Homo sapiens: one gene and its partners. The protein of the gene in region 2 purifies or fractionates together with the protein of the main gene of each other region. This does not show direct contact. Each region holds a gene or a part of one and is shown on either strand. Other genes may lie near its edges. The genes, in order: SMARCA1, BAZ1B and DEK.

Evidence for each region.
Region 1: the proteins of BAZ1B (region 2) and SMARCA1 purify together in Homo sapiens (affinity purification with mass spectrometry; 2 studies listed by BioGRID and IntAct, with this or other methods). This does not show direct contact.
Region 3: the proteins of BAZ1B (region 2) and DEK purify together in Homo sapiens (affinity purification with western blotting; 2 studies listed by BioGRID, with this or other methods). This does not show direct contact.

What each region holds. Positions count from the first base shown.
Region 1 is NC_000023.11:129,482,376-129,492,732, forward strand, and holds part of SMARCA1 (SWI/SNF-related matrix-associated actin-dependent regulator of chromatin subfamily A member 1), read right to left. Parts: intron 9,719-10,357; coding exon 9,566-9,718; intron 7,818-9,565; coding exon 7,685-7,817; intron 6,711-7,684; coding exon 6,562-6,710; intron 4,763-6,561; coding exon 4,643-4,762; intron 1-4,642.
Region 2 is NC_000007.14:73,468,812-73,479,168, forward strand, and holds part of BAZ1B (tyrosine-protein kinase BAZ1B), read right to left. Parts: intron 9,759-10,357; coding exon 8,057-9,758; intron 1,673-8,056; coding exon 1,534-1,672; intron 840-1,533; coding exon 706-839; intron 1-705. UniProt on the Homo sapiens protein: Atypical tyrosine-protein kinase that plays a central role in chromatin remodeling and acts as a transcription regulator. Involved in DNA damage response by phosphorylating 'Tyr-142' of histone H2AX (H2AXY142ph).
Region 3 is NC_000006.12:18,252,750-18,263,106, forward strand, and holds part of DEK (protein DEK), read right to left. Parts: intron 5,657-10,357; coding exon 5,555-5,656; intron 5,314-5,554; coding exon 5,204-5,313; intron 3,707-5,203; coding exon 3,612-3,706; intron 3,103-3,611; coding exon 2,982-3,102; intron 1-2,981. UniProt on the Homo sapiens protein: Involved in chromatin organization.

The DNA of each region.
Region 1 (10,357 bases), on a different chromosome or scaffold from region 2:
AAAGGGGTAAATAATAAATGTCAACATGATAAGCATATATCCCTTCAAATCAAGAGAAATATTCAAATGAGACCTTCTGGAAACACAGGTATGGCAGAGTTGGAAAAGTGGTGGAAACAGAAAGACCAGGATTCTGCTACTTCACTAGTTATATAACTTTGGGGAAATTATTTTTTTCCACCTGCAAAATGAGAATAATAATACTTACCTTGAGGATTACATATGATCATATATGTGAAAGCATTAAGTAAACTGCCAAGAGTTAAATGCAAGATATTATTAAACATCCAAAGTAGCATCAACCATGATTTGGCAGCATTACCAATTTTACCCTATTATCAGCTAGAAAATATAATTTAACAGTCAACAGACAAAACTGACACTACAATGTTCTGGAGTCTGAGAAATGGCTTCCTAATTCATATTTTTCTTTATTTCTGTCCTTAGCCTAGTATCTTTACATAAAAGGGGGCATTAATCCACCATTAGTTGTCTCACTCTACTTGATCTAATCTAAGGGCTGAATTCCAACCTTGGCATCGTATTTTAAGAGTGGATAATAAACCAAGATGACCAGTATGGTTAGAGATCTACAAATTCTCACAGTGTCTAGAGAAGTAATGACTAAAGACAGACACAACGGTGACATTCGCATATGAAAGTCTATCAAATAGAAAAGAACACAGTCCTTCATTGATCCATAAGATTAAAATCAATGTGGAAAGTTAGAGAAAGTAGATGGCTACTCAATATAATTTAACTATTCATTAATTACCTACTGTATTATGTGCAAGTCAGTGTCAGTGATATACACATGAATAAAATAATCTCTTTCATCAAGGAACTTGTAACTCAAATAAAAAGTTTTCTGAGAACCAGAGAATATAAAACAGTGAAACAAACTACCCTGAGAGGGATAAGATTCCCAACACTACAGTGTTCAGAGGCTGCATATCTGTCTTGGATGCTAAAGATGAGATTTCTTAATTACAAGAAACTTAACATAAATGACCTTCTAACTCTAAGAGCCTGAGATACCGATATTATAATGAGATTATTAAGTAAAATGAGAAATTCCCACAGCAATGAAACAAATTTCGCTTTTCCTTCAGATGGATTAATGTGAAGCGACAGTAATGAAAGAGATATTTTATAAATAACCAATATTTTATCTTTCTCAATTGGAGTAAAAATAAATTAATAATAATTTAAACCAACATTCTACAAGTGATGTATTTAGCTATTTAACCTATACTTGTTTGATGGTCTAGGCATTCAAATTTGAAACAAACATTGAAGGCCAATTCCTCAACTTTCAAAAAAAAGAATAAATCATACCGAATTAGTTTACTTTACATAAGAGTACATTAATGCTAACTTATCTGGGTTAATTTATTCAGGATCACAGCCATCATGATTTAATTTACCAGGTATGGTTGTAAAAGTAATGCAACTGATTCAACAAACCATATATGAAAATCTACCTCAATGTATAGTTTCCATGATTTAAAAATGATATTCTTTCAAGTTTTCACTTCTCCTCAAAAGATAATTTAAACCTATTTTAAGAACCTATCTAGAAAACACAAAGAGGCAGAAATAAAATATAATCTCAGCTCAGAATATTCAGAAAAAAATGTGATTCTGGACACCACTGTTACTGTCAGACATTTAATTATAAAAATACAAGTCATCATGGTTATTAAAATTCTCTTTACGCATCATTACTTTGCTAAAATTAGAAGCACAAGGAAACCAGTTACAGATAGCCAAGTATTTTACTAATTTTTCTCTAAAAATGTGGATAAGAAGCTCCACTGGTATTTAGACTTCATTGTTTAAAATTTTTCCACTTCATAAAACACTCCTATTATCCATAAGTCTGCAGGAATAATTGTAAAATTAATAAAACTTATATCACATAATGAGATCTCAAAAGCATATTAGAAAGGCAATTTCCACCCTGTGCAGATAGGCCATCACCTCCATCTCAGCAGGATAAAATATAAGCCGTCTAAGTGAAGATTAGAGATAGGACAACCTGACAAATACAAATCAAGAAACTAAAAGCTATCAGAAGCAGTAACAGAAACAAAGCATTATCAGCATACTAGCTACAGTGCAAAACCAAAATGTCTCACCTCTCATTTTTCAGTAAAATAAGTACCTAAGAATGAGCTTTTTTATTTTAAGAAAATTCATTTCTGTCAGTTCAAAAATATAACAGCTTTATAGAGCAATTTGAGCAACAAAATATATAAAGATAGAACTGGATTATAACTCAAAACATCCATGAGTCCATACTGATATAAATAAATAACTGAAGACACAAATAAATTGGGGAGAAGGGGTAGATCTTCCACACAGAAAAATATCAATTAATAAATACATATAGATGGAATGAAGAAAATACAAAATTACCATTAGGCAAACACCACAATAATAACTACTGCAGGCAAGCTCCACCAGTACATGCTAAAATCAGTGAGTAAAAGTCTGAGAAAGATCTCCCCACAAGGTATTTATCAATTACAGAGGGAAAAATGGCAGACAATGTATTGGAAAGCCTGGATTACCAGGCAGAAGCCTGCCACAGGGGCGCTGCCCTGTGGAGCGACTCTACTAAGGCAATGCTGAGTGGAAATGTGAGGTTGGAACTCCTACACAAAGTCCCCAACAAGGGCACTGCCTAGTGGAATTGGGGGTGTTGCAGGGACCCTAGAATTACAGAGCCACCAGCATCAAGCAACTCCTATCTGGAAAAGCTGCAGGCACCATACTCTAATTCATGAGAACAGCCACGTGGGCTGTACCCAGCAAAGCCCTGGAGGCAGGGCTGCCCAAGGGCTCGGGACCCCATTTCTCACACTAGTGTGCCCAGGATGGGGGAAACAGAGTCAAGGGAGATCATTTTGGAGCTTTAATGCTGGGTTTTGGACTTGCATGGGGCTTGGTACCCCTCTCATTAGGCTGATTTATCCCTTTCAGAATGGAAATGTTTACCCAATGCCTATATAACCATTGTATCTTAGAAATAAATATCTTGTTTTTGGTTTTATAGGCTCACAGCTGTAAGGAACTTGCATTGAGACTGAGATGAGACTTTGGACTTTTTAGCTGATGCTGGAACAAATTAAGACTTTTGAGGACCATTGGGATGGAATGATTATAATCTGCAATGTGAGAAGGGCATGAGATTTGGGAGGCCAGGGGCAGAATGCTATAGTTTGGATATGTTTGTCCTCCAAATCTCACATGGAAATTTGATCCCCAGTGTTGGAGGTGGGGCCCAATAGGAAGTGTTTGGGTCATAGGGGCAGATCTCTCATGAAGGGCTTGGTGTAGTCCTCGAGGTAATGAGTGAGTTCTCTCATTCTATTAGTTCCTGACAAAGAGCCTAGCATTTCCCTCCTCTCTCTGGTACTGTCTCTCTCTCTCTGTCTCTGCCATGTGGTCTCTGCACACACCAGCTCTCCTTTGCCTTCTGCCATAAGTGAAAGCAGGCTGAGGCCCTCACCAGAAGCAGATGTTGATACCATGCTTCTCTTACAGCCTGTAGAACCATGAGCCAAATAAACCTCTTTTCTTTATAAACTACCAAGCCTCAGGTATCCCTTTACAGCAACACAAATGTGCTAAGACAGTAGATATACCAGTTACCCTGATTTGATCATTACACATTGTATATATGTAACAAAATATCACTCTGTATCCCATAAATATGTACAATTAGTATGTGTCAACTAAAAATAGAAGGAAAAAATAATAAAGTCTATTTTTTTAAAAATGCACTGTGGGATACTAGATTAGATCCCCTGGAATCTAACACCAGTTAATTAGATAATTAACCAATGTCCTTTTCCTGGCACAGGAAAGGACATTAGGAGAAAAACTGGTGTTAATTTCCTGGTTGTGATCATTATACTAACATGTAAATTGTTAATATTAGGGGAAGCTGAGTGAAGGCTATAGGTTAGCTCTGTACTATTTTTACAACTATTTTGTAAGTCTAAAGTAATTTAAAAATAAAAAGTTTTAAAATCTCAGCCTTAATTTCAGTTTAAAAAACAAGATAAATAAAACCCCCATTTCTTCAACAGACCACATGTAACAAAGTCCTTCTGCATTTAAGTAACTAAATGTTACTAATATTATTATTCATACAGTTAACATTAAGTGTCAGGCATTATTCTAATAACTTTATGAGTATTAACTCATTTCATCATCAGAATCCCTCTATGATGTAACTATTATAACCTCCATTTGATAAATGAGAAAATTGAGAATACCCAGAGTCACTTAATTAGTGACAAGAGTTGAGATTTCAGCTCCAGAATTCAGGAATTCAACCTCAATCCTACACTGCTTCTCAATAACAAAAGTAGTACTAAGCAGTAGTAGTAGTAGTAGCAGCAGCAGCAGCAACAGCAAAAATTGATGATGATGATGATGATGATGATGACGACGACGACGATAAACCAATAAAATAAACGAAAGATATACCTTGCATGAGATATTTAGACCTATATCAAATTTCACTCTAGAGCAGGGTATTATAATAGGTAAGTGCCAGTGTTATTTTATAATTGTTATGGGGAGAAATGCTCATTTGAGGGTCTAATGGTTGAGAGTAAAAAGTTACCTTCTGTTTTTCTCTATAATCTTCTCCCTCAAATTTGTATAAACTTTGTTCAATGTCCATTCTAAAATTTCTTAGAGAAGACTCTCCCATTTTTTGCAGGCGTTCATTCATCTCTGCAGTCTAAAGGTGAAAACATTGAAATGAGAAAATTATCACTGAATTACTTGTAAAAGTCTGTGGATTCTCTACCTTTTTAATAGTCAGGTTTTGACATGAAATATCCAGTCTGCTAATTTACAAGGTATGAATGCAATGCTAACATCAAACCTGAAGTGCAAATTTTACTTGCCCAAGTATTTCAAATATTTAAATGGTGCTTCCCAAGTACTCTCACTTAGGCTTTCTTTAAAATCTTTTGTCAGTGAAGTTGTACCCACATTATAATTGCTCTTGCATAATTTAAATGGGACAAATAGCTAAAGCTAAGAGAAAGGCAAAGATGGACTAAAAATACACATTTTGCATACTGGTATGAAACATATTAACACAAGATCATTTAAAATGCAGGTTATTACCTGAACTACAAAATTCTTCTGAAAAGCAAATTCAACCAGTTTACAAGATATGCAACAAACATAGTAAAATACACCATGGAGATGAAATCAGCAAAATCCACACTGTGATTAACTCAAAAGGCAAACAACCTAGTCTTTTCATCAAATAAATTACAAGGAATACAATACATGGCAGGAGAGGGGGCCTATAGATTTTAAAAGATAGAGATGAAATCTCAACCATGGCAATTTGTATTTTGATTTGCATTCTGATTTAAAAATGAAAAGAAAACTTTTTAAGTATAAATATTTACGACACAATTGTAAATTTGAATACTAACTGGATATTTGGTGTTATTAAAGAATTATTGGGGTTTTTCAGGTGAGACAATGTTATAATGATTATCTTTAAAGAGTCCTTCTATTTTAGAAATACACAGTGAACTATTTACAGCTGAAGTATGTCTGAGATTTGCTTCAAAATAATCCAAGGAGGGGAAAGATAACTGGGGATATAGACAGAACAGGACTGGTTGATGGTTGTTAGAAACAGGTGATAAGTACTTCGGGGCTCATTATACTACTCTGTCTACTTTTACTTATGTTTAAAATTATCCATAATTTGTGGAGAGGGGAAGGTGAACTAAACACAAAATTACAATATTCTGAAACAACTTATTATGCTTTAACAAATAGTGATTTAGCATTTCATGAAATGTTTTATAAAAGATTTTCAATTAACCAATGTATCAGTAGATGATTTCTAGTCCAGTGCAAAAAAAAAAAAAAAAAAAAGATTATAAAAATACAGTCCTGGTCAGGCATGGTGGCTCATGCCTATAATCTCAGTGCTTTGGGAGGCAGAGGTGGGAGGCTCACTTGGGGCCAGAGGTTCAAGATCAGTCTGGGCAACACAGCAAGGCCCTGTCTCTAAAAAAGAAAATTAATTAGATGTGCATGTTGGTACATGCCTGTGGTCCCAGCTACTCAGGAGGCTGAGGTGGGAGGATCACTTCAGCCCAGGAGGTGGAGACTACAGTGAGTTATCATTGCACCACTGCACTCCAGCCTGGGTGACAGAGCAAAACCCTGTCTCTTTAAAAAAAAAAAAAAAAAAAAAAAGCATTCCTTATACATGTGATTAAACACAAAATTTACTTGGCTTTTAGATATAGTATTTTCAATAAAGCATTAGATATAAGGTCACTCAATTTTAAACTCTGGTTCTTAGTCTTTCTCACCAAAAAAAAGTTTTAAAGCCTTAATCTACCCCTGGAAATAGATCTACAAGTTGTTGGAGAGAATATGAGCTACCTGAAACATGTAGATAATGCAGATAAACATGTACAATGAAAATATAAGTATGCTGAAGTATGTTGATATTAAAACAATCCAGCATGAAAATAAAATGCTATTTTAACTAACCTTCTTTTCCCCTCTTTCCAGAATAGTTGTAATGTCTTCATCTGTCAACTCACTCTCTTTAGAAGCAAAAACATGGGTGGCTCCATGCCGTATCATTTGTAACATTTCCTCTTTTGCCAGCTTGTTAGACTGTTGGTCAATGAGTCTTCCTAATGATAAAAATTGAAATTGTACATATTCAATCAATCATATTCCAAAGAAGGCATAATCATTCTAATCAGACATTATCACATTTAACCACACATAAAGCTTTAAAGAACAAAAAATTAGTGAGCATTAAGGTTATTTGTTTAATAAACCCTACAAGTTTTTCTTCTAGCATACTTTCTATTTCTATATAAATTCCCTTCTGTAAAACTCAGTTAAAACCCAGAAGGACAGAAACTTTTTTTCATGTTCAAACTCTGTTTTCAGATCAAACTTCTCTATATGAAAAGGTACCCTCTAATATGTTTTCAAAAATTTAAAAGTAGCCATTTTATCTGCTAAATAATCTCAGGTACTTCAAAAAGCATGCTACTGACATTCAAGAATAAGCTAGTGATGTTCAACTACTCCATATATCAAATGCCAGGGTTTCAATTCAGAAGATTTCAATTAGCATTTTTTGTTCGTTTGTTTGTTTGTTTGTTTGTTTTTGAGACAGTGTCTTGCTCTGTCGCCCAAGGCGGAGTGCAGTGGCGCGATCTCGGCTCACTGCAACCTCCACCTCCCAGGTTCAAGCAATTCTCCTGCCTCAGCCTCCTGAGTAGCTGGGACTACTGGTGCACGCCACCACACCCGGCTAATTTTTTGTATTTTTAGTAGAGACAGGGATTCACCATGTTGGCCAGGCTGGTCTCAAACTCCTGATCTCAGGTGATCCACCCGCCTCGGCCTCCCAAAGTGCTGGGATTACAGGCATGACCTACCTCACCCAGCCTCAATTAGCATTTTTAAATTTTTTCCTTTTATTTTTAGGTGATACATAACAATTGTACAGACTCATGGGATACACAGTGATGTTTCAATTTTTCCTCTAAGTTTTCAAATTTTGGTCAACTTTTATTAAAAGTAATCTCCTTTGAAGAAAACTACATGTGTTTTACAAAAAACACCTAATTAAGTTTCTATGTATAAATACCTTGTTGTATAACAATTGAATCGAGTCTCAGTTTTATCTCAGCTCTTTCTACAATCCTCTCTTCAACAGTGTTGTCAGTGATGAGACGGAATACACGTACTGGTTTCTTCTGACCAATACGATGTGCTCGATCCTAGTAGAAAGAGTTCTAATGTAAGATATTGGATATTCTGGATAAAATTTAGAGCCATCATATGCTATAAAATTCTAAAAATAAAATTAGTTATTTTTCTCTAGATCTGACACTTTGGAAAAGAGCATGATGAATATTGAGAATATCTAAAGACCACTGGGAACAAAGAAATCTGCAAATATTATATTGTACCATTAATGGGAAACTTCCAGGACAAAGGGCAAAGCACCTGTAAGATGAATAAAAGAGGGAGCTGAAAGTTTCTGGATTGAGTTACTAAGTAACTTTAAGCCACTAAATATAAACATCTTCGAAACTAGCAAGGAATTTTATTAAGTAGTTAGGGTTGCTATGGTGGCAAAAGTCTGCTTTATTTCATCATCAGGCACTTCTTTCTGCTTACTGAGGGATATGCAGTAAAGAGTTATAAAAATTAATGGGATATTACTATCCTTACTATTCAGTAGCCTAGGACTGGTCCTATGGTTTATAGTTGGTACAGGTGACAGGTGGCGAACTTCTAGTGGTATAAAACCATCTAGGGAGAGTATTTTTAAAACACAGAAGCTGCTAGAGCAAATAGGTAAAGGGAGGAGGGTGGTAGAGAAAAAAAAAATGTAAGTTCAAAACAGGCCTTGTACTAAATATAAAAACACTAGAGCCTAGTAACAAAGTTTCAACACAGCACATTTTTCAAACAGAATGCAATCCCCTGCACATATTTACATTAAACCTGAACCAGCAAATCCTGAAAGATGGGATGCACACTAAGACTTCTACGGAAATGAAGTGCTATCACTATTAGATTTTCCAGTTCAGTAACACTGTAACTTACTGGGGCTTACTCCTAGTTAGTCATATCAAACAGGTAGTTCAATACCATCGTAATGCAATAATAATTACGCCAAAGCATATTGATTTTGGAATGTCCCAGTGGTCAATCCCTTTCAATTCTCTATTATAAAAGGAAAGCCTTCTAAGTTATACCTCATTGGCATATGACTTTTCATTGCTCCCAAAAAGACACTTATCCATAGCTATATATTCAAAACCTAAGAAGTTATTTTGCATCTTTTTACTTCTAAATTATATTTCTTTATCTGAAAATGTGAGTCACATTGAGAGAAGTTGTAGCTCTAGTTCAATAAATGACACCAAAATATCAAAGGGGTTACCTGTAGTGTCATGATGAAAGGTCAGAGAAACTTTGCTCCCTAAAAAAAAATGTTTTTAAGTGTAGAATAGCTTTTGCATGGTATCATTATTAAGTAGCAAGTGTTTTTCTGGAATATATTCCTTTCTTACCTTTTTGCCTTCTCTCCCAAATTGTTTTTTATGAAAGTTAAAATCCTACCTCTCTTAATTTCAGTACTAAGGATTTTAATATATTTAGTTGTTGAACAGAATAATAACAAGAGATTGTTTTTTAATCCTTTTCATTAAAACAAATTTATGTGTCCTCTTCAATCTGTAGGAATGGGAAAAAACTGACATTTCTATTTCATGAAAAAAACCAAAATCAACACATAAATGCTATAAGTTGGATCTGGGGTGTGTTTGTTGTTCGCTTTCATTTCTTTTGTTTTTGCAATTAGCATAGCAACTGTGTTTTCCAGGATAATCTACTGTAACTTCTATAAAATCTCTCAAAAATTGTTACCTTTTTATCATAAATGACCTTTATGTGTGTAAATAGCAATAGTATTCAGAGCTATGATAAATTTCTGACACCATTAAAGATTACTAACCATAGCTTGTAGATCAACCTGTGGGTTCCAGTCTGAATCATATAGTATAACCACATCAGCACTTGCCAGGTTAATTCCGAGACCTCCAGCCCTGGTACTTAGCATAAAGATGAATTTGCTACTATTAGGAGCATTAAAAGCCTCTATTGCTTCCTTTATTTTTTATTGATAAAGGGATAGAAGAAAAAGAGAAAAATAAAATTAGACCATCAGGGTCCTTAAGAAACAAATAAAAACATTTAAAATACATATAGAAAATCTTCACACACTTTATAATATTCCTTATAAATATACTTTATAATATTCTTCCATCTTCAAAAATATGTAAGCATCTATACATATACTGTACTGTGTGAATTTCTGTAGAAAGTATATTATATAAATGAAGTTCCTAATCTTTAAAAGCTTACATCGATAGATACAAATTTAGAACAATTACATACACAAATTTAACTAAGCAAGTAATAATTCATTTACATTATTTAAAAACAATAATAATGAAAACGTTTTGAGTGAGAGCTGAAATATATCTAGGAGGTAAAATATCAGAAATCTCAACTTCATTTCCATTAGCTTATGAATGATTAGTTTAGAAGATCAACCAACAGAGAAAATGGTTTACAAATGGGAATGAGGGCAACGGATAAAGGGGAAAGTAAGAAGATTTCTATCAGTATGGTAACAAGGAACAAGCAGGTAAGTAATGAAGAAAATCAGGATGACAATCCAGGGATATTTAGTAAAGAATGTTAAAATTAATATGAATATTCTTACTATATAAAGATCTCATAC
Region 2 (10,357 bases):
CACTGAATAAATTAATTTTAAAAGTAGAAGAAGAGGGTCAGGTGCAGTGGCTCACACTTGTAATCCCCAGCACTTTGGGAGGCCGAGGTGGGCAGATCACCTGAGGTCAGGAGTTTGAGACCAGCTTGGCCAACATGGCGAAACCCCGTCCCTACAAAAAATACAAAAATTAGCCAGATGTGGTGGCACACACCTGTAGTCCCAGCTACTCGGGAGACTGAAGTAGGAGAAGTGTTTGAACCCAGGAGGTGGAGGTTGCAGTGAGCCGAGATCACGCCATTGCTCTCCAGCCTGGGCAACAAGAGTGAAATTCCGTCTCAAAAAAAAAAAAAAAAAGAAGAAGAAGAAGAGGACATCTAACACTGCCCTTCTTAGACCCCATACCTCAATTTCAGCCCTTGAGGCACCTACAAAGGCTTCCAAGGGACAAAGTTTGAAAACTGCTCCTATAAAAGCTAATACCCAAATATCCTCATATTCAAGCTCTTCATCTTCTCACACTATGCTTAGAACAAAGGTGGTAATCAAACGTGGGTTTCTCTCCTTCTTTCTACACATTTCACATCTACCTACTTCACTCAAATAGATCTAAGACCACAATAAAGAAATTCTGCAAATGGAAAACGTGACAGAGGAAAAGCAGTCCTTAATGTTGAGCCCACTTGAGCAGGGTGAAATAACTCTTAGATATACAGATATACTCACTGCGAGGACAGTAATCCTCATCACCAGAGACTGTGTGGTCTTTGCAGTGATGGTTGAATCGGTAGTCAATGCTGTCATGTACCCAGCCTTTTTCAATGAATAATCCTGGAACTTCATCTGAGAAGAGCCAGTATCTACAAATCACAACCAGTATTAATAAGACAGTGAATAGATCAGGATTGCAGGATGATTTTACTGCTGGAGAAGATAATACAGAGTATCACTGAGCATTCAAAACCACAGTTTACAGAATTCTTCCTCTTCAGAACTCTAGACAGATAAAAATTGCAAGGTAAATCAAAGTATACGAGAAATGTTGAAACTGGAGACTAGCTTAATGTTCGTAATTTGTATAATTTCTTTCTTTTTTAAATTGAAATGGGGTCTCGCTATGTTGGCCGGGCTGGTCTTGAACTCCTGGCCTCAAGCAATCCTCTCGACTCAGCCTCCCAAAGTGTAGGATTACAGGTGTGAACCACCACGCCCAGCCCTAATTTGTGTAACTACTAATATTTCTCCTTTAGGTTTCACAAAATGTATGTATTTAAAACCTACTGCCATTTTTAAAGACTTGGATTACATTTCACCTATCACCATCATGTAAGCTTCCTACTTGTGGTATATGCAAGGGCAGGAATATGTCTTACTTAACTTTGCAACTCTAGCATTTGGCAGTTAATATTCAATAATCATCAACAATTCTGTTTCCAAAAAGAATTGGAAAACTGAAGAGAGAAGCTTGTCTATTCTTGTACTTTAGAAAATTTTCCTAACTAATAGCAATGTAAATAGTCCTAAAGAAAACAAAAATTTGGTTTAGGAACTGACCTATTATGGTTTCGATCTGTGCCAATAGGAGTCCTGCGCATGACTAGTTTGGCCTTGGCAATCCCTTCCTGGAAAGCTTTCTCAGCAGCTGCTTTGTGCTTCCGTATTCGTTCTTCTTCAGCTTGGCGTTCCAGTTTCACTGTTAAAAATAAAAAGACTCAAATCAGATATTTTCCTAGTAAATCCCACTCTTACAAATTAAATAAAATATGGAGTAAAAAGTGCCTAGTATACAGTAGTTATCAAATCTTAGTTTGCTTTCTCTAATTCTAATCTGTTACAAGAAATTACATGTAAGGCAGCAACATCTAGTCCTCCTACACTCCTTGAATTTGTGGTGACATCTCATCCCTCAACTCAATGCAAAATCTTTTATCTCCAAAATATCACTTCTTTTTGTTTTTGTTTTGAGGCAGAGTCTTGCTCTGTCACCCAGGGTGGAGTGCAGTGGTGCGATCTCGGCTCACTGCAACCTCTGCCTCCTGGGTTCAAGCAATTCTCCCGCCTCAGCCTCCTGTGTCGCTGGACTACAGGCACACACCACCGTGTCCAGCTAATTTTTACATTTTTAGTAGAGACGGGGTTTCCCCATGTTGTCCAGGCTGGTCTCGAACTCCTGACCTCAACTGATCCACCCGTCTCGGCCCCTCAAAGTGCTGGGATTATAGGCGTGAGCCACCACACCCAGCCAAAATATCACTTCTTAATATATTTTAAACAATCCTGAAGAAACAGTTAACAGTCCATAAATAGGACTAACTGAAACATCTTCTGACAGGTGCACCTACAGGATCCTCAAAAAGATCACGATAAATCAAACTAGTAAAATAACTATTTCAAAATAAAACATATTTCAGTCCTGAGGAATCTGACAGTAATTTGGCTTAATAGCCCTGATGACAAGAAAACAAACCTGAAAAGCAACAGCAGGGACGCACTTGTGGATAATAATTATTTTACATTGAACACCTATTTTTCTAATTATTCTGCAAGTTACTGTTAATGATAAAAATTTTATTTCTGATCATTCATTAATTAGGTTTATTCAGTTAGAAATTTCCCTCAACAAAAGCAGCCCGCTAATTTTGTTAAGTTTTTCCATAATTGTCACAAACCTTGACACCATAGGGTACATGGCAATGCTATTTACAATGTCACAATTTTTAAGAAGTGTTTATTATTTTTTTAGAGATAGGGTCTTACTATGTTTGCCCAAGCTGGTCTCAAACTTCTGGGCTCAAGCGATCCTCCTGCCTCGGCCTCTCAAAATGCTGGGATTAGAGATGTGAGCCACTGCACTCAGCCCCAATAATTTTTAACCCTGATTGTCTATTGACAATAACATCTACAATAAGATGTAAATCTGGAAAATGCATCTGTCTAAAGATGTTACTTTAAAAACTTAAGATAAATTCCATTTATTTAAAACATGGAATTTGTTACCTTTGATAAACAGTTTTCTAGCCCAAGTGAAACTGTGTATTTGTAACAATGGTTATAGTAGAAAATAGCACAAAGGTAAATGATTAAAAAAAAAAAAAAGCGAGAGAGTGAGTGATGGCCCAATTACAATCAAGGAAAAGTTCAGTCTCCCAAGACTACAAACAAACATAAACCAACTTAGGACAAGTCACCAAAGGAAGACCAAATTCTGTCTCAGAGGTTACAGCACTGAACTAGTTATCCAAAGACCTGAACTCTAATCCAAATACTGATCTTGGTAAAACACTAATATTCTGTCTCTTGTTTCCATACAAATAACAGAGTATCATCTTCTTTTCCTTCTCTTAAGATAAATATAAAACACAGTGGAGCAGTCCAAAAATGCAAGAAGAAATTATTACGTTTCAGATAAAATAGAGCTGAAGGTTTTAACCTACATTCTGCTTCATCTGGAACACAGTTATACTTTTTTTTTTTTTCTTTTTTTTGAGACAGAGTTTCTCTCGTGTTGTCCAGGCTGGAGTGCAATGGTATGATCTCGCCTCACCGCAACCTCCGCCTGCCGGGTTCAAGTGATTCTCCTGCCTCAGTCTACCGAGTAGCTGGGATTACAGGCATGTGTCACCACGCCCGGCTAATTTTGTATTTTTAGTAGAGACAAGGTTTCTTCATGTTGGTCAGGCTGGTCTTGAACTCCCAACCTCAGGTGATCCGCCCACCTCAGCCTCCCCAAGTGCTGGGATTGTAGGTGTTGAGCCACTGCGCCCGGCCGCAGTTATACTTTCTTGATAGGTATTGTTTTGTTTTGAGACGGAGTCTCACCCTGTCACCCAGTCTGGAGTGCAACGGCATGATCTCGGCTCACTGCAACCTCTGCCTCCCAGGTTCAAGCGATTCTCCTGCCGCAGCCTCCCAAGTAGCTGGGATTACAGGCGTGTGCCACCACAGCCAGCTAATTTATTTATTTATTTATTTATTTATTTATTTTGAGATGGAGTCTCGCTCTATCATCAGGCTGGAGTGCAGTGGTGTGATCTCGGCTCTCTGCAACCTCCAACTCCCTGGTTCAAGCGATTATCCTGTCTCAGCTTCCCGAGTAGCTGGAATTATAGGCCGAGTAGCTGGAATTACAGGCACCACCACACCCAGCTGATCTTTTTTTTTTTTTAAAAAAGACAAGAGTCTCGCTCTGTCCCCCAGGCTGGAGTACGGTGGCCGATCTTGGCTCACTGCAACCTCAGACTCCCTGGTTCAAGCAATTCTCCTGCCTCAGCATCCTGAGTAGCTGGGATTACAGGCATGCGCCACCATGCCAGGCTAATTTTTGTATTTTTAGTAGAGACAGGGTTTCACCGTGTTGGCCAGAATGGTCTTGATCTCCTGACCTCGTGATCTGCCTGCCTCAGCCTCCCGAAGTGTAGGATTACAGGCTGTGAGCCACCGAGCCTGGCCTGTTCATATGTCTTTAAAATGTTAATACAATGGCCAGGGGCGGTGGCTCATGCCTTTAATCCCAGCAATTTGGCAAGTTGAGGCAGGCAGTTCATTTGAGGTCAGAGTTTTGGGACCAGCCTAACCAACATGGTGAATCCCCATCTCTACTAAAAATACAAAAATTAGCTGAGTGTGGTAGCAGATGCCTTGTTATCCCAGCTACTCAGGAGGCTGAGGCACGAGAATAGCTTGAACCTGGGAGGTGGAGGTTGCAGTGAGCCAGATCGCACCATTGCACTCCAGCCTGAGCGACAGAGCGACGCTCTGTATCCAAAAAAATAAATAAAATGGAAAGTACACATTACATATGTATACTCAGGCACAGTATGCATACATATGCAAAAATATTTCAATGGCCTTAAGTAGTGTAAACTAAAATTTGTTTTAAAAGGAATATACATTTTCTAATGAAAGAACTATTCAAGCCGGGGTTTGGTGGCTCAGGCCTGTAATCCCAGCACTTTAGGAGGCTGAAGCAGGAAGATTGCTTGAGTTTAGGGGTTCAATACCAGCCTCCACAAATAATAAAAAGATTAGCCAGGCGTGCTGACACATGCCTGTAAGTCCCAGCTGCTCGGGAGGCCGAAGTGGGAGGACCACTTGAGCCCAAGAGGTCAAGGCTGCAGTGAGCTGAGATCACACTGCTGCACTCCAGCTTGGGTGACAGAATGAGACCTTGTCTCAAAATAAAATAAAAAAGAAAATGTTGAAAAAGAACAAGCTGGAAGATCAACACTTCCCTATTCCGAAACTTACTACAAAGCAAAGTTATCAAGACAGTGTGGCTTTTACATAAAGACAGACATACAGATCAGTGAAATAGAATTCAGAGTCCAGAAATAAGCCAACGTATCCTACAGTCATATGATTTTTGACAAGCGTATCAAGGCCATTCAATGGGGAAAGGTTTGTCATTTCAAAAAACGGCACTAGGACAACTGGAGAGCCACATGCAAAAAAAAATAAAGCTGGACTTTTACCTTACACTATAAAAATTAGCTGAAAATAAAAGACCTAAATTTCAGAGGCAAAACTATTAAGACATTTGGAAGAAAACAGGAGTAAATCTTCATGACCCTGGATTTGGCAAAAGATCCTTAAATCTAACACCAAATCTATAAGTAACAAAAGAATAAATAGATAAAATGAACCTCATCAAATTTAAAAAACTTTTGTGCTTCAAATGATACTACTAAGAAAGTGAAAGGACAGGCCAGGTGCAGTGGCTCACAGCTGTAATCCCAGCACTCTGGGAGGCCAAGGCGTGCGGATCACCTGAGGTCAGGAGTTCGAGACCTTGCCTGGTCAACATGGTGAAAACCCACCTCTACTAAAAATATAAAATTAGCCAGGTGTGGTGGCACACGCCTGTAATCCCAGCTACTCGGGAGGCTGAGGCAAGAGAATCACTTGAACCCAGGAGGCAGAGGTTTCAGGGAGCTGAGATCACGCCACTGCACTAGCCTGGGCACAAAAAAGAGCGCAACTCCGTCTCCCCCAAAAAAAGTAAAAGGACAACACGCAAAATAGATGAAAATATTTGTAGACCAGGTATCAGACAGAGAATTGTATCTAGAATATATACAGAACTCTTACAACTCAATAATAATCAGATAACTCAATTTAATAATGGGCAAATGATCTGAATACTTCGCCAAAGATACACAGGTGGCCAGGAGACACATGAAAAGATGGTTCAACATCATTAGCCATCAAAGAAATGCAAATCAAAACCACAATGAGATACCATTTCACACCCACTAGTATGACTATCATCAAAAAGTCAGAAAATAACAAGTATTGATGAGGAAGGAGAAAAGTCAGAACCTTTAATTCACTGCTGGTGGGCATGTAAAATTGTGCAGCCACTTTGGAAAACAGTCTGGCAGTTTCTCAGATGGTTAAACATAATCATATGACCCAACAATCTTATTCCGAGGTATTTACTCTAAAGAAATTTAAGTATATGACTACTCAAAAACTCATACATGAATATTTATGGCAGCATTGTTCATAATAGGTAAAAGATGAAAACAATCTAAATGTTTATCAAGTGATGAATGAGAAACAAAACGTGGTATATCCAAACAATGGAATATTATCCAGCCATAAAAGGGAATGAAGTACTAACACATGCTACAACATGGATGAACCTGGAGAACATGCTAAGTGAAAAAAGCCAGCCATAAAAAGGCTACATATTATATGATTGCATTTACATGAAATATCCAGAATAGGTAAATCCATAGATGCAGAGAACAGATTGGTGGTTGCTGGGGGATGTGGACAAGGGAGAAGAGTGAGTGACTTTTGGGTTTTCTTTTAAAAATGTTTTGGGGCCAGGCATGGTGGCTGGCCCGGCATGGTGGCTGGCCGGGCACAGTGGCTCACGCCTGTAATCCCAGCACTTTGGGAGACTGAGGCGGGTGGATCAGGAGTTCGAAACCAGCCTGGCCAACACGGTGAAACCCCATCTCTACAAAAACACAAAAATTGGCCAGGCATGATGGCGCATGCCTGTAATCCCAGCTACTCGGGAGGCTGAGGCAGGAGAATCGCTTGAATCCAGAAGGCGGAGGTTGCAGTGAGCCAAGATCAAACCATTGCACTCTAGCCTGGGTGACAGAGCGAGACTCCATCTCAAAAAAAAAAAAAAAAAAATGTTTTAGAACTAAATAGAGGTGGTCTATTTTGTGACTGGCTTCTTTCACTTAGCATAATGTTTTCAAGATTCATTCATGTTGTAGCATGTAAAACATTATGCTAAGTGAAAGTCACAACAGACTATTTATTATACAATTCCATTTAGAGAAAATGCCTAGAATAGCAAATCTATAGAGACAAAGTAGACTAGTGGTTGCTCAGGGCTGGGGAGGATGGGCGAATGGGGTAATGACAGTTCATGGGTAGCAGGTTTCTTTGAGATGATAAAAATGTTACAAAATTGGCAATGGTTGTACATTATCTGTGACTCTACTGAAAACACTAAATTATACACAATAAGTGAACTAATTATACTGTATGTCGATTATTTCTTAATAAAGCTGCTTTTTAAAAGTTCAGATTCGATGGAGCCATCAAAGCCCAAAATTTTTAAGTTCTTAAATCTTAAAGGACAGATTACTATCTGAGTTGGTGACCGTGCTAGGGGCTTCAAATACCTTGTCAATCAATTTTACAACAATCTTATCAAGCATATGAGGAAAGTGAGGCACGGATAAGTAATCTGCCCAAAGGAACACTGTACAGCTAAGTCAGAGCTAGAACCTGAACCCAGGTCAGTCAACTCCCAAGTCCTATGTTGTTTCCACTATTTCTATTTGTAGATTTGGTCCTTTACTGAACCCAGAAAAGATGCCAACATCACATTAACTTATTAACTAATCAGAATGCCAGGCTGAACACTCCAGCTGAAATATGAAATTATCAACAGAACTAATAAAAAATAAAATACATACCAATAGGTGCTGGGTTATTACATACAGAAATAAGTAAACAAACAGAGACCCTACCATTACCTCAGTAATTTCCTTTCTTTTACTATCTTCTACAGAGCTTCCCCTTTTCTCTCAGCATGAAATTTTACCTTTCATTTCTCTTTCCTGGATTTCCCGTTCCTTCTTAGCTTGAATGGCAAGCAACCTTCTGCTCTTCACAGCACTAATCATGTCTTCAGCTTCTGTATCTACTTGGGGCTCAAACTTCACAATTTCTTTTTTCCTATCAGTTTTGCCTAACCCATTCTCAACTTTTCCATTTTCTTTATTTTTGGCTTCCATTTCTTTCCGTTTCTGTTTCTCTGCTCTCTTCTTATCATTTTCTTCCTTCAACACAGCAAGCCGTTCCTTCCACAACTCTGCAGACATCTGCTGTCTGGTCTCCATGTGGTCTTGCACTGAGTATGTCATGAGGATCCGGTGGCACAGTGCTGTCAAGATCTGTAGCTTCTCCTCTGACGTCAGCTCAAAAAATTCAGAGGTCTCCAGCTTTTCTAGGAACTCATCTTGTACCTCATTATCCTCAAATGCAGCTGAATCTTTATTGTCATCTGTGTCTGAGCCCTCGCTTTCCTCCTGAACATCAGATCTGCGCAAGCAGAGCCGCACCAGCTCTGAAACAGAATGCAGAGTCAAGGGGATTTCCGACAGCTTCATTCCCAATTCACCATAGTCTTCTGCTATCTCATCTTGTAGGAGGGTCTGTAAGAGGATGACCAACACCCTGTTAAGGTATAAAAAGCCACCCTTATCTGCACTCAAGGCTTCCATAAGGGACACAGCAGTAATAGGATACTGAGCATCTGGTAAAAGTAGCCCAGAATAACAGCTCAAGAATTCCACCACCATGGCCACATCCCCAAACAGCGTGTTGGGCAGCCCTTCAGGGGTATCCACCAATCTGAATGCTGGAAGGTTTTTGCCAGTTAACTCTTGGTCCTCATACCGCTTCTGTTTTTCTAATCTCTCAAGCATTTCTTTCTCTCTTCGTTCTTTGGCTTTTTCCTTCAACTTCTTTTTCAGCTCCTCCCGTTTCTTTTTCAAATATTCTTTCCGTTGTTCTTCAGACATAGAAGCCCACCTCTTTTTGTGCTCTAGAAGTTCATAGCGTTTTTGAACAAGACTTCGCAATTCTTCTGGGAGACGAGCTCTATCTTCACTAGAGAGAAGACGAGCTGTTTTGGAGATAACACAGGACAGGGCGCTCCTCTTGTCCTCCCTGTCTTTGTTTTCTTTGTAGTATGCAATGAGGTGTAGGGCTGCAGGAGGCAGATGTTTATGAGGTTTACTAGAGGTCCTAGGTGTACCCCCAGAATTCCGTGGGGCTCGTGTCATCTTCTGCGTGCCTTTGGCCATATCCAACAAAGTCATCTGCTTCATTTTGGTTTTAGGAGTCTTCAGTCCTTTTTTGGGAGATTTGGAATTCCCTGTGGATTTCTGTCCATTCAGGATGCCTTTGCTTCTGCCCTTTGCCTTCAAAGGCTTGTCACTGTGCTTCCCTGGTTTCTTGGCAGGTGGGCCTTTTTTAGGAATGTGAAAGTTAGTGTGCAGCTTATTGGGCGACATCATCTTCATCATTTCTTCTAGATGTTCTTCAGGAGATTTGGAATTCTTTGAGTTCTTCACTTTGAGTGGCGAGCCACTCAATGACTTCTTCAAGTGTACGTGACACCATAACTTAGGATTTAGTGGTGAACTAAGAGAAGAGTTGTCTGTCTTGGATTTCTTTGAGGGCTTCCTGTCTGGGGATCCAGTATTCTTCCTCTTAGTAGAAGGGTTGAGAGTCATATACTAGAATTTAAGAATAGGAGCAAAATTAATTTTAAAATCTAAAACTAACTTAAGCAACATTTAAGCATCTTAAAGGCCCTCTTCCCCAGCTATTCAGGTAAAGCTACATATTCATATCTCTTCATAGATACTTTGTCCCTGAAAAAACAAAGACATGAATGTTAGCTAATGTTTTTGTCATGTCAACACAAAATTCCCTTGACATCCAGACTTAATACTAGACATTTTTGCTATGTAACTAGTTCTGTTTATGTATATTAATGATTCTTAAATATTTAAACAAAATCTGTGAACCCCTCCAGCAGAAATAGTAGACAAAAACTATGCATACAATTTCAGAGAATCCATCCATGGACCCCAGATTAAGGATATCTGATCTACAAAATGGCAATATCTGAAAAGTTTAAAAAGCACTGTTCTTGAAACAAGACTGAATTTTCATCCTTTCACTGTTGGTTCCTATTCAGGGCATTTTATGCTTTTAAGTAGAAATGATACTGTTTAAAGTACTTTTGTCTTAACTCTGAGGTACATTTTCTTATAGAAGCATCAGTGAGTGTAAGAACAACATGAACACTGCTCATAGATAAAGACACCTC
Region 3 (10,357 bases), on a different chromosome or scaffold from region 2:
TCACTGTGTTGACATTTGTACTAATTGCAAAAGCAAAGGAAAGCAAAGGTGGGTAAAATTGATGGCACCTTAGTACTAATCAAGGAAGCAACATATATTAGTCACTGTATTCCTCACAACCACACACCAGCAGAAACAAACAAGGCAAATGGTTTCACTTAATAATGTCCTTGATAAAACAATAAATACTGTGTTAACTCTCAAGTACATGTCTTTCTAATATCTGTGACAAAATGGAAGATATACATAAATATGGCTACAACTGAAGTTCAATGGTTTTCTGAAGGAAAAGCATTTGTGTATCTGAGTTGTGAGCTAAACACGCTCCAAGCTCCTTTTTCATAGAACCCCACATTTTTTTTTTTTTTTTGAGACAGTCTCGCTCTGTCGCCCAGGCTGGAGTGCAGCAGCACGATCTCGGCTTACTGCAAGCTTCACCTCCCAGAGAACACCACTTTTTAAAAGAACAAATATGGCTAACTCAGACTTAGGTATTTGATAGAGATGTTTTCAAACATGAACAAGGTGAGCTTGTCACTTCAAGGAAAACTGAGAGCATTTATCGCCAATGATAAACGTTATGATTTCAAGTGGGAACTAGAATTCTGGAAAATTCACATCTACTACTGTGAACTTGATAGTTTACCAAGGCCTAAGTAATTTTTCTGATGAGATGATATTTATATTAATGAGCATGATTTAATGACAGTGTTCAATAAAACGTCAACATTTGGAAGACATAATTCAGGGAACCAATATTTACAAGCGGTAAATGCATGTTACAAAACTATACATACAAGACCCAAGTTAATTAACCTGGTTTCAGACCTACATTAAACATTACAACTAATCTTTAGGAAACTACAACTTATGTAGAGTTTTGGTATTGTATGGTATCAAAAAGAGAATATACACAATTATCTAAAAAGACTTTAAAAATATTCTTTTTATGTGAGGCTCGGTTTTCTTCATATACTTATTATTTTGAGAGAGGATCTCATTCTGTCACCTAGGATGGAATGCAGTGGCATGAAAATAGCTCACTGCAGCACTGACCTCCTGAGTTCAGGCTTCCACCTCAGCCTCCCAAGTGGCTGGGATTACACGAGCGTGCCTCAGCGCCTGGCTAATTTCTTCTTGAGACAGTCTCACTCTGTCACCCAGGCTGGTCTTGAACTCCTGAGCTCAAGTGATCCACCTGCCTCGGCCTCCCAAAGGGCAGGGATTACAGGCATAAGCTACTGCATCAGGCCCTTCATAGATTTTAAACAAAACAATACATTGCAAAAGACTGAATGCGGCCAGGCACGGTAGCTCACGCCTGTAATCCCAGCACTCTGGGAGGCCGAGGCGGTCAGATCACCTGAGGTCAGGAGTTCGAGACCAGCCTGGCCAACATGGCAAAACCCCGTCTCTATTAAAAAGACAAAAATTAGCCAGGTATGGTGGCACACGCCTATAATCCCAGCTACTGTAGAGACTGAGGCAGAAGAATTGCTTGAACCTGGGAGACAGTGGTTGCAGTGAGCAGAGATTGTGCCACTGCACTCTAGCCTGGGCAACAGAGTGAGAATCTGTCTCAAAACAACAGTAACAACAACAGTAACAACAACAACAACACAAAAAGACTGAATGCAGAAGCAAATGGTAATCAAGCTGTTTTCTCTTAAGCCAGACATTAAACAGATGTACAAAAACATAAAATGCCACTCTTTCATTCTTTTGAAAAGTTATTTTTCCTAGAAAATATTATTTTTAACATTTTAAAATAAAAATTTTTCAGTTCTAATGTCAAATACAGTGAAGATCAAAATAACTCATATTAAAAAAAGCTCTTGGGGTCCTCACTAATTTTTTAAGAGGGCAACAGTATCCTGAAACCAATAAATTGGAAAACCACTGAGAAAAAGATAAATATAAAAATATCTGTCATAACAACCTAGTAAATTGCTTCTGAGGAAATAGTGATCACCTTGCCTCACACTAAATCCTTAAAAAGTACAAGTATAGCTATAGTAAAAGTTAGAAAATAAGAAGTATTTTGTCTTTAAACAAGCCAATTTAAAACACCAAAAATCATCATACCCCTTGCGTTTGTAGTTGTATAACAAAAGTTTACACTTTAACTGCTGTTTATCTGTCCTCGTGCAGCTAATGGTAATAAGGACCAAGGGCGGACGAAAACGAAGTCCTAGAGCTATTTTCTGGTTTTGATTAATGCCATCTCCCATCAGAGATGGCATTCCCCTGAACTCCTAGGCCTGCTAGATCTCTCACACTTCCTTTCCTGTCAAGATGGGGAAGAATATAAAAACATTTGCTGACAGACCTAAATCACACTAAAAAGGCAAGGTCATGTAACACTTCAACAGACATTTTAAGTCACCTATGTCATTCGTTACCATTAAATAATTAGGGCAAACCTACTAGCTTTTAGGAAGAGTGAGAAAACTGTAAGGCCATTTTACTTCCCTGTCTGGCTCCTGGGCTCTGCTGCAGATTCTGGAAACCCAATATAGGAAACTTGTAAGAGTTAGCTTTTAAATGTCACTTTTTAATACTTTATTCCAGGATCTAGGAAAACATCCAGTTCTAATATACTCCCTATTTTGTCTTCACTTGATTACAGGTTGCACCCCTTCCCTCCAGCCTTGCACCTCATCCTCAGCCCAACCTCTTCCTATTCTTCCAGTGTCTTCTAGATACCTAACCCTGACTACTAGTACTTTCTGTCCCTTCTGACATTAATTCACTATTCTTAACCTTATATCCCTTGTATCTGATTTTCCGAAGCAACATACCCCTATGGCATCTATATTATTTCTATCAGGAAATTACTGCAGATACGTCAACAGAAGGTATAGTCTTTGAATGTAGATATGAACGAATACTGACAGCAATGCTGTTATTAATCAATTTTTGTTTCATATAAAGAGGCTATGAATAACTGATTTATGAAAAAAATAAAAATTGATCCTCACTTTGCCAGAAGGCTTTGGATGCATTAAGAAATTCAAGATCCTCTTCACTAGTTCACTATTTACACCTGATCTCTCCAAATCAAGAACCTCACAGATGCTCTTTAACATGGCATTTCTAAATCTGAAACAGAAAATGGAAGAAACCAAGGTGTTAATATAGGAAAGCTTACATATGTTCTCCACAATATAAAGGGAAAGCCAACCAAATTGGCTCAGTTACATACATTTAAAAAAGTGGCCAATGCTTCTATGAATCTTTTTTCTTTTTTTTTTTTTGAGACAGTTTCGCTCTTGTTGCCCAGGCTGGAGTGCAATGGCCCAATCTTGGCTCACCGCAACCTCCACCTCCCAGGTTCAAGCGATTCTCCTGCCTCAGCCTCCCAAGTAGCTGGGATTACAGGCATGCGCCACCACAGCCGGCTAATTTTGTATCTTTAGTGGAGACGGGGTTTCTCCATGTTGGTCAGGCTGGTCTCAAACTCCTGACCTCAGGTGATACGCCCGCCTCAGCCTCCCAAAGTGCTGGGATTACAGGTGTGAGCCACTGTGCCTGGCCCGAATGTGATTTAACATTAAAAAATAAACTTAAAGCATATTGATCAAAATACAGTATTTATAAAAATAACTTACTTTTTCAACATTTCTTCCTTCTTTTTATATTGGACACTTCCTTTTTCAAATGGAAAGCCACTGAACTGACCCACATTCTTCTTTAATGAGGACACCTGAAAATGTTCCTTATTATTAATGGTATTTATTACCCAGTAATGTACACAAGAATAAATTCAAAGCCAATTCAAAGTCAACATCTTTATTTTCATACCTGTCTGTAAGTTACAATACTGGCTGAACAGTCAACCAATTCAATATGGGTTCAATATTCAACATTTCTTATTCAAAACTGAAAAATGTATTTGTCATTAACATATTAACATTATAAAAATCCTACAAACTTAAGTCTCTGAAAAGAACAATTTGAACAAATTTTCACTGGGGAGTTTTTACCACAACCAAAAGTTACCTGACAGTACCAGGGGATGTGGAAAGTTACTATTTAAAAATATATCCTTTTCATAAGTAATAAAGTTACTAGTAATTCTTCTTTTCCAAATCAAGAAGGACTTTATTCTTTCAAAGTAAAGAATAGCGAGTACCACAAAAAGCTAATACCGTTCACTAGTTATGGGACTTGTGTAAATTAAATTGGTTTAAGGATTAAATGAGATTAACAGACTCACTGAAAATAAATTATGTCATGCACCAGACATTCTATTCTACTTCAGACATTCTAACACCCAACTTTACTTTGCCCACGTACAACCTAAAGCAGTTCCCTCGATTATATAATATACTAAGTCATATGTACAGTATAATAACAATCCTTTAGCAAAGAACTATCATCCAATTTATCAGGTATTTGCTAAAAATGAGATACAATTACACCAAATTCACTTTGTATGAGATTTGTATGAGATACAAATGATTTTGCCTCTTATTTGTATGAGATACAAATGAGATCATATGTATGATCTCATACAAATCATACCGACATTCACTTATTCTGAATGTCGAGAAAATCCAAAAACATGAATTTCTTTCAATACATTTAAAGGTCACTAAAACCTTTCATCACAATTTGGATTTCGTAATTTGAAATTTCAGTTTGGAATAAAAACTACTACAGGAGAAAGAGCCCTAGAGCTGGGCATACTGGCTCACACCTGTAATCCCAACACTTTGGGAGGCCAAGGTGGGAGGACCACTTGAGCTCAGGAGTTCAAGACCAGCCTGGGCACATGGCAAAACCCTGCCTCTACAAAAAGTAAAACAATTAGCCAGACACAGTATGGTGGCATGCACCTGTGGTCCCAGCTACTTGGGAGGCTTAAGCGGGAGGAACACTTGAGCCCAGGAGGTTGAGGCTGCAGTGAGCCATGTATTGCACACTGTACTCCAGCCTGGGTGACAAAGTGAGACCGTGTCTTAAAAGAAAGAAAAAAAAAAGAAAAAGAAAAAGAAAAAAGAAGACAGAGCCCTGGATATTATAATCCAAGTGCTAATATCCAGCTGTGTTTCCTGTGATAAATCATTTAATAAGTATATACCTCAGTCTGCTCAGTCATAAAGTGTGGAAATTGAACTAGTGGATCACTAACATTTACAGAAATTGATTCCATTGTGAAGTAATATACAAGTAGGTTTAAAGTGTAAAAAGGTCTTACAGTGCCTGGCCTGTTGTAAAGCAGTTTGTGTAGATTTCTAAGTTCATCGGTTTTCTTCTTACTTAGAAAAAAATGTATCCTCTCAATTTCACAAAGTTTCTGCCCCTTTCCTGGGGAAAAAAAAAAATCACAATTAAATACCTATGGCTTACTAATACATTTACAAAGTTAATTTAATGAGAATTATTTTCACAGCATAATTTACATGTAACTCTGCTCTTACAGAGCAAATTAAATAAAATTATACCAAAAGTATAAAACACTACCTTGCTGATACTAAGCTACAAACCATCATTTTCACAAATTTAGGCACTTTCACCACAAAATGAAAGGAAGCTAGAATAAACTTACCTTGTGCAATTGTAAATGGCTCTCTCTGTAAGGAAGAGACTTGCATTGTCAACCTCTCTACTTTTTTCTTTTCCCTCTTGCCTTCCACGATGAGACTCTTTTCTAGAAATTAATTTAGTATTTCTTAATTAACAAAAAGCTTAAACATTGTATTAACTTTATTAGATACACATGTAGAACAAAGTCCCCAAAACCTAATACTTTATTCTTCTTCTGAGCATGGTTTTGGAAAGCAAATGACATAAAAGAGGAAAACACTTGATTAATTAATAGAGCACCATGAAAATTTTTTCAGAGTAACATTTTACTCACCTGGCACTCACAGGGACTCAGTTAAAAAAAAAAATTAGAAAGCAAACTAATTTTTATCCAACTAAAATTATTGCCATTACAGTCCAGTCACTTCGTTTGTGAAAAAAATCTAGCTCTGTTTAATCTTTGGACATAATTCTATTTAATAATTGAGATTCAGTTTGCTGTACTTCAGGAATAATCAAATTTAGACTGGGAGATTAAGAACTTCAAAAGATATATAGAGAACAATAACAATTTAGTAAACTGACAAAAGAAACACAAATAAAGACTTCCAGGCAGAACAGCCTGAAGTACGTGGATAGGATAAAACTCTCCAAGTTTACATTTAATGCAATCAACTGGGAGAGCATTACTTTGTAGTTTATGAATAACATTCCTAATGATGACCATAAGTCACTCAAAGTTAAATTGTTTAGTCACAAAAATCTACGGTGAGGCGCGGTGGCTCATGCCTGTAATCCCAGCACTTTGGGAGGCTGAGGCGGGCGGATAACGAGGTCAGGAGATCAAGACCATCCCGGCTAACTCGGTCAGGAGATCGAGACCATCCTGGCTAACTCAGTCAGGAGATCAAGACCATCCTGGCTAACGTGGTGAAACCCCATCTCTACTAAAAAATACAAAAAATTAGCCAGGTGTGGTGGCTGGTGCCTGTAGTCCCAGCTACTTGGGAGGCTGAGGCAGGAGAAAGGCATGAACCCAGGAGGCGGAGCTTGCAGTGAGCCGAGATCGCACCACTGCACCTCAGCCTGGGCGACACAGCAAGACTCCGTCTCAAAAAAAAAAAAAAAAAAAAAAAAAAAAAAAAAAAAAAATCTAGAAAACAGGTAGCATATACTTCAAAATTCAAAACATTAAGCTCCATTTATCTAAAATAAAATCATTTTTTGAATGAAATAAAGTCAGATAAAAGAATACTATATACTGCTCGAGGTTCTGCCATTTATTTAATGCCTGTGTTGTGCAGCTGCACTCAATACTAAGAGGGGATAAATGGATGATAAAAACTGCGTATCTTTTGAAAAAGATGCTACTAAAGAAATGAGACATAAATATACGCCAATATAAAAGATAACAAAACATCTTAAGAAAGATACACAAATAAATTGCTGTGCACTGAGGAGGAATTGATTATTTTGGGACTAGAGAAAAAGGAACAAAGCACGTGTGCTGGCTTTTAAAGACAGCTTAGATTTAGTAATGTAAGGATTCGCACAGAAAGAATACTTCAGGAGAAAGGGCTATCAACAGGTATATTCTGGCCATGTTGTACAGAATGAAGACCAAACACACTAAAACAACCCCTACTATCACTCAACTTCATCAACTTAGTGATTTAAACTATTTGCTTGTCTCTGATTACTAACTACAAGCTAATGACTTCCCAGTCAATCTCCAAGCCACAACTTTCATCTGAGATTCATATTAACTAATATTGCCTCAGTATCTGTGAGGGATTGGTTCCAGGACGCCCCTCAGATGCCAAAATCCATGGATGCTCAAGTCCCTTATTTTTTAAAAAAATGGTGTAGTAGTTACATGTAACCTATGACCATCTTCCCATATACTTTATATCATCTGTAGATTACTCATAATGACTAATACAACTTAACTGATATGTAAATAGTTGTTATACTGTATTGTTTAGGAATAATAAAAAAATCTGTACATGTTCAGTACAGATGCAACCATCCATTTTTACCAATTTGTGGTTGATTGAATCCACAGATGAGGAACCCACAGATATGGAGAGCCAACAGTATATGCCTGTCTGTCATCTGGACAGCTACAATTCATGTCCTACAGGCACCTAAACTCAAAATATTCAAAAGAAAAATCATAATCATCTCCAAACTTGCTCACTTTGTGAATTTTTTTCAAAAAACATTAATACCATCCACCCACCTGCCAAAGACAGAAACCTAAGAGTCATCTTTTACTAGTCATTTCTCTCACTTCCCTTTTCCCCAAAATCACTGCCAATTTTGGCTAATCTGACCCCTTTCTTAGGACAGACTTCAGAGGATATATGAGAAAGCCTGGGTGCCTGGGCAGAAGCCTCCTGCAGGGGTGGAACTCTCACAGAAAACTGCTACTCAGGGCCAGGCGTGGTGGCTCATTCCTGTAATCCAGGCCCTTTGGGAGGCAGAGACGGGCAGGTCACTTGAGCTAAGGAGTCTGAGACCAGCCTGGGCAACATGGTAAAACCCTGCCTCTACAAAAAATACAGAAAGTACCCGGGCATGGTGGCGCATGCCTGTGGTTCCTGAGGTGAGAGGATTGCTTGAGCCTGGGAGGCAGAGTTTGCAGTGAGCTGAGATCATGTTACTGCACTCCAGCCTGGGTGACAAGTGAGACCTTGTCTCCAAAAAAAAAAAAAAAAAAGAAAGAAAACCTCTACTAGGGCAGTGTGGAGTGGAAAGGGGAAATGGGGGGTGGACCCCTAGATTCACCACCAAGGCTCTATTGGCTAGTGGAGCTGTGGGAAGGGGGCTGCCACCTCCAAACTCCAGCATGGTAGAGCCACAAGCAGCTTGCATCCTGAGCTGCCCAAAGCCTTGGGACCCCTCACCCCTTGCACCAGCGTGCTCTGGATGCCAGACATGCAGTAAAAGGAGATAATTTTGGAGCTTTAAGATTTAAAGACTGCCCTGCTAGGATTCAGACTTGTAGGCCGGGCGCAGTGGCTTACGTCTGTAATCCTAAAACTCTGGGAGGCTGAGACGGGCGGATCACCTGAGGTCGGGAGTTTGAGACCAGCCTGACCAACATGGAGAAACCTTGTCTCTATTAAAAATACAAAATCAGCCAGCTGTGGTGGCATATGCCTGTAATCCCAGCTACTCGAGAGGCTGAGGCAGTAGAATCCCTTGAACCAGGAGGCAGAGGTTGCGGTTAGCCGAGGTCAGGCCACTGCACTCCAGCCTGGGCAACGAGAGCGAAACTCCGTTTCAAAAAACAAACAAACAAACAAACACAGAAAAACAAAAACCAAACAAAAACCAAACCAGACTGTGTGGGGCCTATTGCACCTTTCTTTTGGCCTTTCTCCCTTTTGGAATGGGAATTTTACCCAATGTCTGTACCATCACTGTATCTTGGGAGTAAATAACTTGTTTTTGATCTCACAGGCTCATAGGTGGAAGAAACTCATCTTCAGATGAAACTCTGGACTTACAGATTTGGGACTTCTGTGTTAATGCTGAAACAAGACCGGACTTTGGGGGACTACTGCGAAGGCACAACTGAATCTTGAAATGTGAGAAACATATGAGAGTTGGGGGACCGGGGGTGCAATGATATGCTTTGGATGTTTGCCCCCTCCAAATTTCGTGTTGAAAAGTGATTTGCAATGCTGGAGGTGAGGCCTGGTAAGGTGATTAAATCATGGGGGCAGATCCCTCATGAACGGCTTAGCATGGTAATCCGTGGTGGTGAGTGAGTTCTCTCAAGATTTGTTTAAAAGAGCATGGCACCTCCCTCTACAACTTGCTCCCACTCCCAAATGAAATGCCTGCTCCCCCTTTGTCTTCTGCCATGATTGGAAGTTTCCTGAGGCTTTCACCAGAAGCAAATACTGGCGCCATGCTTCTTGTACTGTCTGCAGAACCACGAATCAATAAAACCTATTTTCTTTATAAACTACCCTGCCTCAAGTGTTTCTTTATAGTAACGCAAAAAAAAAAAAAAGCCTAATACAGAAAGTATTTCACTGTCTGGCTTCCATGATGCCTCAGTTCTAAAGTTAAATATTCAGGGTTAAGTAAAATAAAAACTTTCACAATTCTACTTGTCCCACAAACACCTCAAATTAGTAAAAAGAATAATAAATCACAGCTACAATAAAACTATTAGGGGATAAAATTTCTACAACATCATGTTTTTAAAAATAATTTGTCTAGAACAAAACATGGGATTCTTTCAACTACCAACTCTTCCCCAAGCATTACTGTGTTGGCCACTTACAGTATATTTACATGACTTCTCTAATTTTTTCCTGACATGAAGAAAATTCACCATTTCTTTGGCATCTCAACCCTGCCCCCACCAGAAGACCAAAATACAAACAAAAAATTGGAGAAAAAGTGCAGAGCCTCTTTGGCTAGCAGCGAGATAGTGCAGCCAATTTTGTTGTTGTATTAAAAATAATTTTAAAATAACATGTTGTTAAGCAATAGTTTATGTGAAAACTTATATTTAAAAAGCCATGCTTTACTTAAATATGCCCTTCTTAGGGCACATACCACTTTAAACAAACAAAAGGCACACCTTGTAATCTTAACCCAGATTGTGACCACAGGCTGGTTGAGGCTTAAAAAAAATCCGGGTTTAGGAAGAGCGCTTCAACCTCTTCCCAAGTGTGGCTGAGTCGTAAACATATACGAAATAACCGCAGACTAAGCTAATATCAAAGAATGCTAAGAGATGCGACTCGGATTTTTAAATGTTTGGAAACATGTCAAGAAGCGGGTACACCTGAAACAGACA